Linked DNA regions of Homo sapiens: region 2 is linked to region 1. Evidence: fine-mapped expression QTL. Tissue or cell type: whole blood. Region 1 holds a variant in brackets; the other region holds the start of a gene. All regions are shown on one strand. Distances are from middle to middle.

Region 1 (5,992 bases):
CTCATGGAACCAGCTGGTATCTTAAGACACAATCCTGTCTGGACCAGCATTGAAGTTTTGCACTGTGCTTAGTCTTGATTCCATTCATTCATTTGTTCAATGAGTACTTTTTGAGCACTATTACCTGTCAAATTCTTGGGTGGTGAATAACAGACAGATCCTTGTCCTTGCTAATCTTATCATCTAGTGTGGGAAATTAATACTAAACAAGTGCCTAATATAATTTCAGACACTGATAAGTGCTATTAAAAAAGAGCAGGAGAAGACAGCAGGAAGGAAGATGATATTTTAGACAAGAAGATCAGGAAGGTTTTTCTTAGGAGTTGACATTTGGTCAAGAATAAGAATTCCTGGGAATTCCTCGGACTGGGAATTCCTGGGAATTTCCACTGGAGAAAGGGAAGGAGATGAACAAGGGGACTGAAATGGTGGGAGGCTTGGGTCCTTAATTGGAGAGAGAGGGACGATACATCAGTAAGCAGGAGCTAAAGTTTTCTTTTGAAGAACTCTGCTCAAGGAATCAGCCCTTTGTGGTCTACAAAGGGCATTCACTTGGTTTATCTCACCTGTTAGGGCATTTTCCTCATTTTTGGTGAGGAATGGAAAAGAGACAGGGTGTAATTTAACTAAGGTCCCAGAGTGGGTCAGGGATTCAGGTCTCACATCTGCACCAGGGTGGACTCCAGCTCCTAGTGCACACCTGTCCACAAAACCTCCAGGTCTTGGGTAGGCTGTGTGTGGGAGGTTTCTCCACCCTGTCAGTCCTTTTCTGGAGGTGAAGGTGTATTGGGGTCTAGTTCTTGGAGACTCCTGATTTCTCTTTTTAACGTGTCAGACCCAGGGAGTAAAAAGTGAGCCTCAGAATCCCCAAAAAACCAGGATAGGGTGGAGCTCAGGAGAGGCAGAAGGCCAAGACAAAATGAGTGCCTTGCCTTTGGGGACAGAGGAGACAGATTTTATTCACTCAACCTAAAAACAAGAGCCGAATGGAAGTCGTCGTAGGCTGAGAGTCCAGACACCTGGCCTCCAGCCCTGGTCTCTGGATTGCTGTGTGCCATGGTTTGGATATGGTTTGTCCTTTCCAAAACTCACATTGAAATTTGATCCCAAATGTGGTGGTGTTGGGAGATGACTCCTAGGCAGGGAGGTGTTTGGGTCATGGGGGTGGATCTCTCATGAATGGCTTGGTGCTGTTCTCCCAATAGTGAGACCTAGGTTCTCTGCTCAGGGCCTCACCAGGCTGAAATCCAGGTGTTGGCTGGGGCTGCAATCTCATCTGAGGCTCATAAGTCCTCTTCCAAGCTTGTTTAGGTTGCTGGCAGGATTCCATTCTTTGTGGCTATAGGACTGAAGCCCTCATTTTCTTGCTGGCTGTTAACTGGGCAATTTCTCTCAGCTCCTGGAAGCTGACCTAAGGTCCTAGCAGCATGGTTCTCTCTCAACATGGCACTTACTTCTTCAAAGCCAGCAGGAGAATTTCTCTCCAGTCTATTATAATGGAGTCTTACATGGTGTAATGTAATCTATGCCATCACTTTACCATATAATGTAACCTAATCAAAGGAGTGTCTTTTCCATCATATTTTTAGATTTTGTACATGTTTTCAGGTGTGTACACTGTGGGTGGGATTCTTGGGGGAGAACTTAGAATTCTGCTTATCACAAAGGCCCAAACTTTAAGACACAGCAATTTCTCTTTTTGCCTTTTTGAGAGTCCTGAGCTACGATATAATAAGTCCTGCTACTCTGTTGGAGAAACCATATGGAGAGGCTAGGGGAGGGATGGAGGGAGGGAGATACTTGGGGAGGGAGAGACCTAGATGCCCTAGTATCCCAGCTGAGTCAAGCCTTCCAGCCATCCCCAACAAGGTGCCAGACATATGAGTGAGTCATCTTGGGTATTCCAGCACAATTGAGTCCCCTGAAGACTGCAGCCTCAGCTTACATGTAGGGCAGAAGAACCACCTAGCTGAGCCCAGTCAGCCCACTGAGAGAGTGCACTAAATTGTGCAAGAGGCTTTCACTGACTCCATCTGCCAAAAGTTTTTTGTTCTGGGAGGAAACATGGTTCTGCCCATTGTATTTCTCAGTGATGGGAAACCTGTCTCCTGCATGGACATTTCCAAAGCAGGGTCTCCACTGGGCCATGATTGAAAATCTATCTGGTCCCTAGGTTGGTCCTTTCCTAATGATCTTGAGAGGTGGCATGGCTGAATGGCAGAAAAATTCTGGACAGGGAAGCCAGGGACCTGGACTGTAGCACAAACTCTGCTGTTACCCTGCTGTGTGATCTTAGAACTACAGCTGTCACGTCTCTGGTGCTTTCCATGTGCCAGGCAGTGTTGTAAGTGCTTTATACATATTCACTCGTTCAAACCACATAATAACTCTAGGAAGTAGGTACAATTATTACCCAATTTTACAGATGAGAAAATGGAAGCATAGAGATATTGAATCACTTACCTAAAGTTACATAGCTAGGAAGCCATGGAATCCATCTCTTTCCTGGACACAATGGTCTGATCCTAAGA[T/C]TCTAGAATTTCATGGTTCTAGGAGTCTAAGATTCAACAATTTTTAAGGTTCTGGCAGCCTAAGATTCCATCAGTTTGAAGATCCTTGAATCCACAGATCATAAGCTTCTAGAATTCTCAGATTGCAGTTTGAAAAAGCAAATTCCTGCCATCTGCGAGGGTGGGGGTCAGGGGACATGATGGGGAATGACTCAGCTTGAGCCCTCGGCCTTGCTCAGCCCTCTGCTCCAGGAGTTAAAGATGTTGCCTACCCCTTTAGGCATTTGCTTCATTTATCTGAAACCCAAAACCTCTCTTGGAACTGGGAGCCCTGGGTGGTATGAAAGCAGGAGGGAGACCTCCTTGCCTGATAGGCCTGCAGCATCCACGGAGAGGGGCCAGAATAAGCAGTGAAACCAGGACTTGGAGTTCCCTGAGAATGATAACATTCTCTGTATCCCGCAGACCCCAAATAAACCCACGTTTTCCGCAGGCTCTGCTGAGGCCTGAGGAGAAAAGGGAAGGATGGTGGGAAATGGCTGATGTTTCCATAGGACCCACCACCCTGGGTGTTGTGTTTCTGTTGGAGAGGGGGCCACCTGGCTGGTGGCCCTAGAATAGCGGTACACTCCAGGACCACAGGGAGGCCATCCAAGCGGAAGCAGGGCTGGCCGGCTGTGTTGTATAGGCAAAGATAAGGAGCCAGGTCAGGGTTGACATGTGGAAGTGTTTAGGAGCCTGGGAGATTGGGCACTGCAGAATGACATATTCTGGAGGGACTAGGGGGCCCAGGGGTTACTGACTCCAGTGGCCTCATTCTATAGATGGTGAAACTGAGGGGAAGAGAGTTGTTGCCATGGTACATTTAACATGGGGTTCAATAAAATCTCTGGAATTGACCCCAATACAGTCAAACCCCTGTACTTCAGCTACACCAACTAGTGACCTTAACCCAAACTCTGGGCCTTTGCTTATGTTTTGCATGCTACCTGGAATGCAGTTCCACCCTGTTCTTTGCCTGTAGAAACACTTCTCTTGGAAGGTACAGCCCCAATACTACCTCCTCCAGGAAGCCTTCCTTCATCCCTTCCCCGTTTCTGATGTCCTCTCACCTGCTTCTAGGAGCACTGAGGGCATTTCATCTGCCCCTTCCTTTTGCTCTATGTCATATTCTCCTTCAGAGTAATTGATATGATTTGGCTCTGTGTCTCCATCCAGATCTCACCTTGAATTGTAATAATCCCCATGTGTCAAGGGCAGGACCAGGTGGAGATAAGCGAATTATGGGGGCGGTTTCCCCCATACTGTTCTCATGATAGTGAATTCTCATGAGATCTGATGGTTTTATAAGGGGCTTCCCCCTTTGCTTGGCACTCATTCCTTCTCCTGCCACCCTGTGAAGAGGTGCCTTCCACCATGATTGTAAGTTTCCTGAGGCCTCCCCAGCCATGCAGAACTGTGAGTCAATTAAAACCTCTTTTTTTTTTTTTTGAGATGGAGTCTCACTCTGTCACCTAGGCTGGAGTGCAGTGGTGCGATCTTGGCTCACTGCAACCTCCACCTCCTGGGTTCAAGCAGTTCTCCCACCTCAGCTTCCTGAGTAGCTGGGACTACAGGTGCCCTCCACCATGCCAAGCTAATTTTTGTACTTTTAGTAGAGATGGCGTTTCACCGTGTTGGCCAGGCTGGTCTCGAACTCCTGACCTCAAGTGATCCTCCCACCTCAGCCTCCCAAAGTGTTGGGATTATAGGCGTGAGCCACCATTTCTGGCCGCCTTTTTATTTTTCATCTACACATCAGTCCCCAAGCCCTCTACCATCAACCTTTTAATGGCAGGGCTGCTGTTTTCCTCATTGAGCTGTCCCAGAGTCTGGCTCAAAAGTGCTTAGTGAGAGCTGGATTAATGATGGCCTCTGAGGCTGTGTAAGGTGGAGTATTTTGAAGAATCCAGATAGTGAGTGTCCAGGGTGTTTCTGGTCCCTGTTCTATCTGAAGACTGCTTCCTGGAAGATGGGAGCTGAGCTAGCCCCTGGAAGATGGGATGAGAGGCTTGTTCAGCTGGAGTGGAGCACCAGAATGCTAAAGATTAGGAGCCATAAGCCACATGAGCCACAGCTGGAAAGGCACGAGAGGCAAGGGCAATCCACAGTGCAGTCTTGGTGGCAGAGTGAGGGAGATTCCCAGGGTAGCTCCGGAAGGAACTTCACTAGACCTCTCTCCTGGCCTCTCCCAGGGCTCTTGCCTCTGCTTTCAGTGACAAAGAGCTTACCACCTCACTAGAGGGTGATCCTGTGGTGTTTCCTGGAAGAGTACCTTGGGTAGAGGCATCTGGAGATGACAGAGGGGTAGGCGTGGGCTGGGGGGTCAGGGAAACTATTCTGGATGTGGAGGGGGATAATTAGCTCCTCAGTGCTGACTGGCTGGGTACCACGTGATAAGCACAGTGCTGGACAAAGAGTCACAGATTACCTTGTCTTCTGACCAATAGTGGGAGTCCTGGGTTACAGTTCTGAAGCTCACTTAAATGTGTAACATGTACACATAAAAGCCTAAGCTTTGGGATGAGACAGGTAGAGCACAAACCCCAGCCTCACCACCTACCACCAGGTTCCTTTACACAAATAATCTCTCCAAATTCAGTTTTCTTATGTGTAAAATGGGGATAAAGACCCCTATTTCTTGGGGGTGGGGTAGAATACGTGGGCCACAGGAGAGTTTGGAAAATGATGGCCATTCCCACAGTGGTATCTCACCTTTATCATCCTTACACATGTCGTCTCTCCAGCTGGGGATCTCAGGTTCTCTTATGGTTCCAACCACAGTCCATGTATCAACAACACAAACCTCAATCTGTCTCTAGATCTTTCTAGAGCTGTAGACTGGCTGTCCATCTGCCTCCTGGTCCGTCTCCTGGATTTGGGACCAGAAACCTGGGTTAGCTCCCATAGTTCCTTGATTCTTTGATTACAAGATTTGCAGGCCCATGCTTTCCTCTCTAGCCTTTCTGTCAACAGCTTCTCTCCCTTTTACCCCCTCCCATCTTACTCTGGCAACACAGAGCATTTCTCAGTCCCCTCAGTGTTGCTCCACTGGCCCTGCTACCTCTTAGCTTCTGCTCACACTCATGTATCTGCTTGGAACACCCTCCCCTCACTCTCTACCCAGCTACCTCTTACTTCTCCTTTCGGTTTAGATGTCACCTCCTGAGACTCAGATTGCCGTGGTCTAAATGTATGCATCCCTCCCACCCTCAAATTCATATGTTGAAACCTAACCTCCAAGGTGATGGCATTAAGTATTAAGAGGTGGGGCCTTTGGGAGGTAACTAGGTCATGAGGGCAGAGCCCTCATGAATGGGATTAGTGCCCTTATAAAAGAGGGTCCAGGGAACTTCTGCCATGTGAGGGTGCAATAGCAAGGCACCATCTTTGAAGCGGAGAGCTAGCCTTTACCAGATACTGAATCTGCCAGTGTCTTGATC
Region 2 (5,407 bases), 320 kb before region 1:
CTAGAAGATCCTGTTCTGTAGCAAGACGTTTCTCTGATGGTAGGAAGGGTATGAGAGTGGGAGACTCTCAGGGCTGCTCAGCTGGGGAGATCTGGGGTGCCTGGGGTACCCAGAGAGAGGAGTGGACCAGGACATCTTTAGAAGGGCAGAATGGAGGGGTGAACTCTACTCTGGGTCTTGGGGACCAGGAAAGAAGCCTCAAAACCTGAGCTCCTTTTGATTCCCCCAGCTGGGTGCCCAGGGACTAGGGCCAGAGATTAGGTTGAGGCCCCAACCTGCACCCTTCTCTACTTTTTTTATTTTTTAATAGAGACAGGGTCTTACTACGTTGCCCAGGCTGGTCTCAAACTCCTGGGCTCAGGCGAGCCTCTGGCCTTGGCCTCCCAAAGTGCTGGGATTACAGGCATGAGCTACTGCACCAGGTCCCTTCTCTGCTTTTTGACCCTTGACACCAACACAGTCCCTCAAGATTTTCCTGAAGTCCCTGCCTTCAGGCCTCTGCTTCCCCAAAGGACTTTCCTCTTCCCCAGCATCACTGCACTCCATGAGCCTGCAGGAGCTCAGCCTTGTAGAGAAAAGACCCTCAGCGGGGAGAAGTCCCAGGACAAAACACAGGTCAGCAGGGGGCTTCAGAGGGGTCCTGCCTCCAGGCCAGAATATACCTGCATCCCTATATTTTGAGGGACCCAAGCTGGACATGAGAAAACCTTCCTCTGGCTCACTCCTGCTCAAATGTCCTCCTTTGAGTCTACCAAAAGCTCTCCTGCTGCAGTGGAGGCCTGACCTCTTCTCCGAGCCTGGCAAATATTGGGAAGGAGGAAGGAGGCTAGGAACTCTCTGGCCTGTAGTGAGGTCAGACCTCACTTATCTCCAGGGGAAGCAGAAGACACACAGTGTGATTACCCTCAGTTCCACACCTGCCAAAAAGCAGTATTTGGGAGTCATTGTTTCCCTAGGGGTTCAGACTGCTCCCTCAGGTCAGTGGTTGCTCAAGCATGGGGAGTTAGGGCTCAACCCTTGGAGGCCCCTCCCTGTTTCCTCCTAGACCCTGCAGCCAATTCTCTCCAGTCACCCCAGGGACCACAGTCCCTGCTCCTCCTCCCATGCACATACAGCAAGGGGCAGTGTCTGGGGCAGGAGAAAGGTGGTCTGAACCCTGTCCTTTCTTGCCGTGCTCTGTGACTCAACCTCTCTGGTCTGCAGTTCCCCAGAGGGCTTCCAAGACCTGGGAGACAGAGTTGAAGCAGACACACATAAGAGCTCGGGGTGGGGGTGGGAGGGGAGCTCTGAAAGCATCTTTGCCAGTCCCCTCTGGACCAAGTCCCACCTGCAGAGTCCCCAGACTTTGGCTGCAGATGCAGCCTGACAGTGTAGAATGAAAGCCAGACCTTGGGTTAGTTACTTCACCAGGTGCAAAGCCCTTCTTCACCTCTGACCTGGCAGCAGCCCTGGGAGGTGGGCAGGGTGGGGTTTATTGTTCTCATTTTATAGGTGAGAAAACTGAGTCTCAGGAAGGGGCAGTGATTTGCTCAAGGTCACACATCCATTCAGGCAGAGCAGGACGAAGAGGTCAGATATTTGGGGGAGTCACACTGGGCACTGTTCTCTATCCAAGCCCAAGAGGCCGAGACAAAGCCCAAGTCTTTGAGGGGTGGCTTGGGCCCCACTCTCACCCTACTTGTACCCCCGGGTCCCCTGTACTCAGGACCCAGCCATCCCTTGGGCAATGCCTGCTCTTGGGGCTTGGGCCTCAAATCCTGTTCCTCCCTGAGATCCTAGAACCAACTGCTGCCAGTTTTCACTCGTTGAAAACAAGTGACAGGCAGAGACTTGGTTCAGAGGTCTCTGCCTTGGGACATTCTTTCAGCTAGCGCAGTCCCTGCTCCCCCTCCAAACTGTAAGTATCAAGGCCCTGGGGAGGGGAGCCAGAACACCACCTGTCCACCCCTGGGTCTCCCGTGCCCAGCCCTCTCCTCCTGAGCTACCTTGCTGACAGCTGGCAGGTGGCACTGCCGTGAGCAGGCCCAGAATGAGGAGGCTGAGGGCCGACATGGCTGCAGCAGCTCCTAGCCTTGCTTCTGGCCGCCGGTGTCTGGGCTCCTGGAGCTGCTGTGGAGTCTATTGGTGTCCGCCTGAAATCAACCTGGGCTCAGTCTGGCCCTGGAGGAGAGGAGCTAGGAAGGAGGAAGGCGAGGGAGGGAGGAGACACGAAGACGGGCGTCGGAGAGAACGTGCCCTCCCTCCCATGGTAATGAGCTGCCAGACCTGGCCTCCCCTGGCTGGTGCCCAGCTCACTTGGGCTGGCATTCGAGGTCATCTTCCAGGGGCCAGCTAAGGAGGTGGGTATGAGGAACAAGCAGATGTGGGAGAGTCCCAGCCTCACCTCCATGCCCTGAGCTCCCTTTTCCTGGCAGTGGGGCTGGATTCTAGGGAAAGGGGTGACACACAGTCGCTCCTGCCTTGACTGAGCCCAGTGGGCGGGGCTTCTTGGAAGGCTGACAGTGGGATTAAGAAATGTCCTGGCTGGCTCAGGAGCCTGGGGAAAACCCCAGAAGCCCAGAGAAGGCTCAAAGCTGCCAGACTCCGCCGAGAGCCTGGCCTATTTCCTGTTCTCCCCACCACCTGCCCCTGCCCCGCCAAGCTAAACTCTGGGACTCTAATGCTGGGACACACTACGGCTTCAGTGCCTTCCACGCCCTGGCCCAGCCCAGTAGCTTCCTAAATCCACCCCCTTCTGCAAAGATCTCAATAGAGGGCCTGAAGGTCCCAGTCCCCAGCTTTCACAGCCCATGCCCAGGCCCTGACCCAGCACAGCTAACCTAGTCCCAGTTCGGTTCTTCCTCTTGGCCCCAGATGTGGTCCCTGGAAACCGGGCAGGGCCTCAAAACAAGATACAGCCTTGGTCAGAGGCTTCAACACCCAACTTCAGATCCATCTCCACCCATGGCAGAGGAGAAAATGGGCAAACACAGCCTGCTGTGGGGGACAAAGGACGGACACCCCAGATGGCAAGGTGCGATCTGGGGCCCTGAAGCCCTGGGCCCGTCACCCTCATAGCCAAAAGCAGCATTGAGGAAGGCACACCTAGCCCCTGGAACAGGGAGGCCCTGGAGCCAGAGCCCTCGGAAGAGGCAAAAGCCTCCCCAGGATCACGTGGTGTCCACCTGGCCCTCCAGCTCAGGGAATGAGAATGGCCAGAGTTCCTGTGCAAGCCCCTGACCAAGGGTCATGCTGGTCTCCTTGCCCCACCCCCCACCCCAGAAGTATGGGAAGCTGAGATGCTGACTCCCTAGAAAGGAGCGGGCCAACTGGAACAAAGTCTCATCAGAGATGGAAGGTCCCCAGGAGCCAGCACCTGAGCTGAAGGCACCTCCACAGCCTCTCTTCCCTGAAGCCACCAAACTCCTATTCATCAGGCCTCCTGGGCAACCCTTCCTATGGCAGGTTGATTCTGCCTTCCTGCTCCAGCGGGAGCACTCAGACATCATGCCTCAGGCCTGCTTCCTGTGTGTGTGTGTGTGTGTGTGTGTGTGTGTGTGTGTGTGTGTGTGTGTGGTGTGTGTGGGTGTGTGTGTGTGTGTTCACATGCGTGTGCAGTCGGGCCCATTGCCATCCAAAGATGGAGTGTCTCAAGGTGATCTGGGAGAACTTTGCTTGGAGTTGAGTGATGCCTCCCAAACATGTATATCCTGGCCTCCCTCCCACACCCAACTTGGTGTCCTCAGAATCTTCTAACACAGACTGGAGTAAGCACTGTGCATGTTAATGAACAGCCAGAGAATCACTGATTGGAATGTAAGGAATGGGGCTGAATTTAACAAACATCTACTGGTGCCTTCTCCAAGAATTTTAGGGAGGAGAGTCACATGGTTAGTTTTGCGTTTGGGAAAACACCTCTCCATGCAGTGTGGAGAGTGAAAGGGGCATGCAAAGGCTGGAGAAGAGAAATCCAGGGATCTGCTACAGTGGCCACAACACCAGTGCCTGGACCTGGGCAGGAAGTGCCCATGGGAACAGATCTGAGCCCTGTTGAGGAGGTAGAGAAGCCGGGGTGTGGCTGCTGGAACACAGTGCCAAGCTGGGAGAATGGGTACAGGCAGGAGGCAGGGCTTCAGGTGACTCCCAGGTTTCTGGCGTAGGCAGCTGGGTAGATGCTAGTGCCTCAGTAGGGGCCAGAGCAAGTTTGGGGGGTTGGAGGATTAATGAGCTATAGATTTTGAGGTATTATGCTTGCAGTGCCTGTGGACTTTCCAGAGGGAGACATCTGGAAGGCTGCAAAATCCCTGCATCTGGAGTGGAACATCTGGGAGCCGTCTGCAGCACAGGGATGGTAACTGAGGCCTGGGAGCTCATGGTCTCCCCAGTGTGTGTAGCGGGGGTAGGGGTGTTGAGGGGAGAGCACAGAAAGAAGGAGACACGCCCCCAACACACAAAGGTCTTTCAAAGGAAGAAGGGGCAGGAGGAAACAGGAGGAAGCAACCCCAGGAAAGTGGGGTATCCCAGGAGCCAAGCAAGGACAGACTTAAGGAGGGTGGGGGGGTCACAGCTGTGCCACCCCCTCCAACCAGTGCCCTCAGCACTCAAGTCCCAGGTTCTGCCTTCCCCACCCCAGTATCCTCCACTTCCCTGAAAAACCCAGGGAAAGGAAAGGATCCCCTGGGCTATGCTTTGGGAGTGGTGGGGGAAGGGGATGAACAGGAAGGACACCAGGTGATCAACAGGAGGAAAACATACCTCCTGGGTCAAAGTCCCAAGCTTTAGAGCAAAACAAGTTGTTCCAGAAAAGAGGGAGCATGGGTGGACACTTGGCTTTGAGGCTGGTCCCTCCTCCCTGGAGGTCTTCACACGGGTGGAGGGTCATCTCCCCAGCTGTATGGACACAGCCCTGATCCCCATGGTAACAAGGTGGGCCCCCCTACTGGTCTGGCTGGGGCCCAGGGTCTGGACTAAGGTCTCAGCAGCCCCACAGGGCTGCACCGTGTGTCCTGAGCAGCTGTTCCATCGACGTTCAGTTCCTCCTTCCTGTTCCAGCCCAGCTGTCACGCAAAACCATCAGGCCCCTTAGACAAGCCCTCCATCCAGCCAGACCTTATGCGATTGCCCTTCAGAAAAGCCAAAGTGGGCCTGGACTGTTTCCAGCAGTCTCCTTCCTCCCAACCCCATCTTGTCAGCCATTCCACTCACTGCCAGCAGGTGGCAGTGTCTAGCTCCAATACCAGACTGGGCGTGCAGGGAGCCAGTTTGCTGCTGAAGATTCTGCAACTTCCCCTCCCTCCAGCCCCCACTTTTGCCCTCCTCCAGGGGTGGTCTGAAGAAAGGGACGGTGGACATTGACATGTAAATAGTCTGGGAACAGCATACAGGGAGTGCTCAGGGCTCTGACATAGGGCAGCGTGGTGGACTACAT

The links. PIP is the estimated chance that this variant, and not a neighbour inherited with it, causes the effect.
Region 2: PDZK1IP1 starts here. The variant in region 1 is fine-mapped to the expression of PDZK1IP1 in whole blood (TOPMed, PIP above 0.99).

The regions. Positions count from the first base shown.
Region 1 is chr1:47,512,470-47,518,461 of GRCh38, forward strand. No RefSeq gene overlaps it. Among named protein-coding and RNA genes, the nearest start is that of FOXD2, 77 kb to the left of the region's middle. The variant T/C (reference allele first, on the strand shown) is at 2,532.
Region 2 is chr1:47,187,881-47,193,287 of GRCh38, forward strand. It overlaps PDZK1IP1 (PDZK1 interacting protein 1), which reads right to left and starts at 2,156. Exons shown (of 4, transcript NM_005764.4): 1 at 1,986-2,156. The coding sequence starts at 2,052. RefSeq lists a silencer at 2,437-2,731 and an enhancer at 3,561-4,510.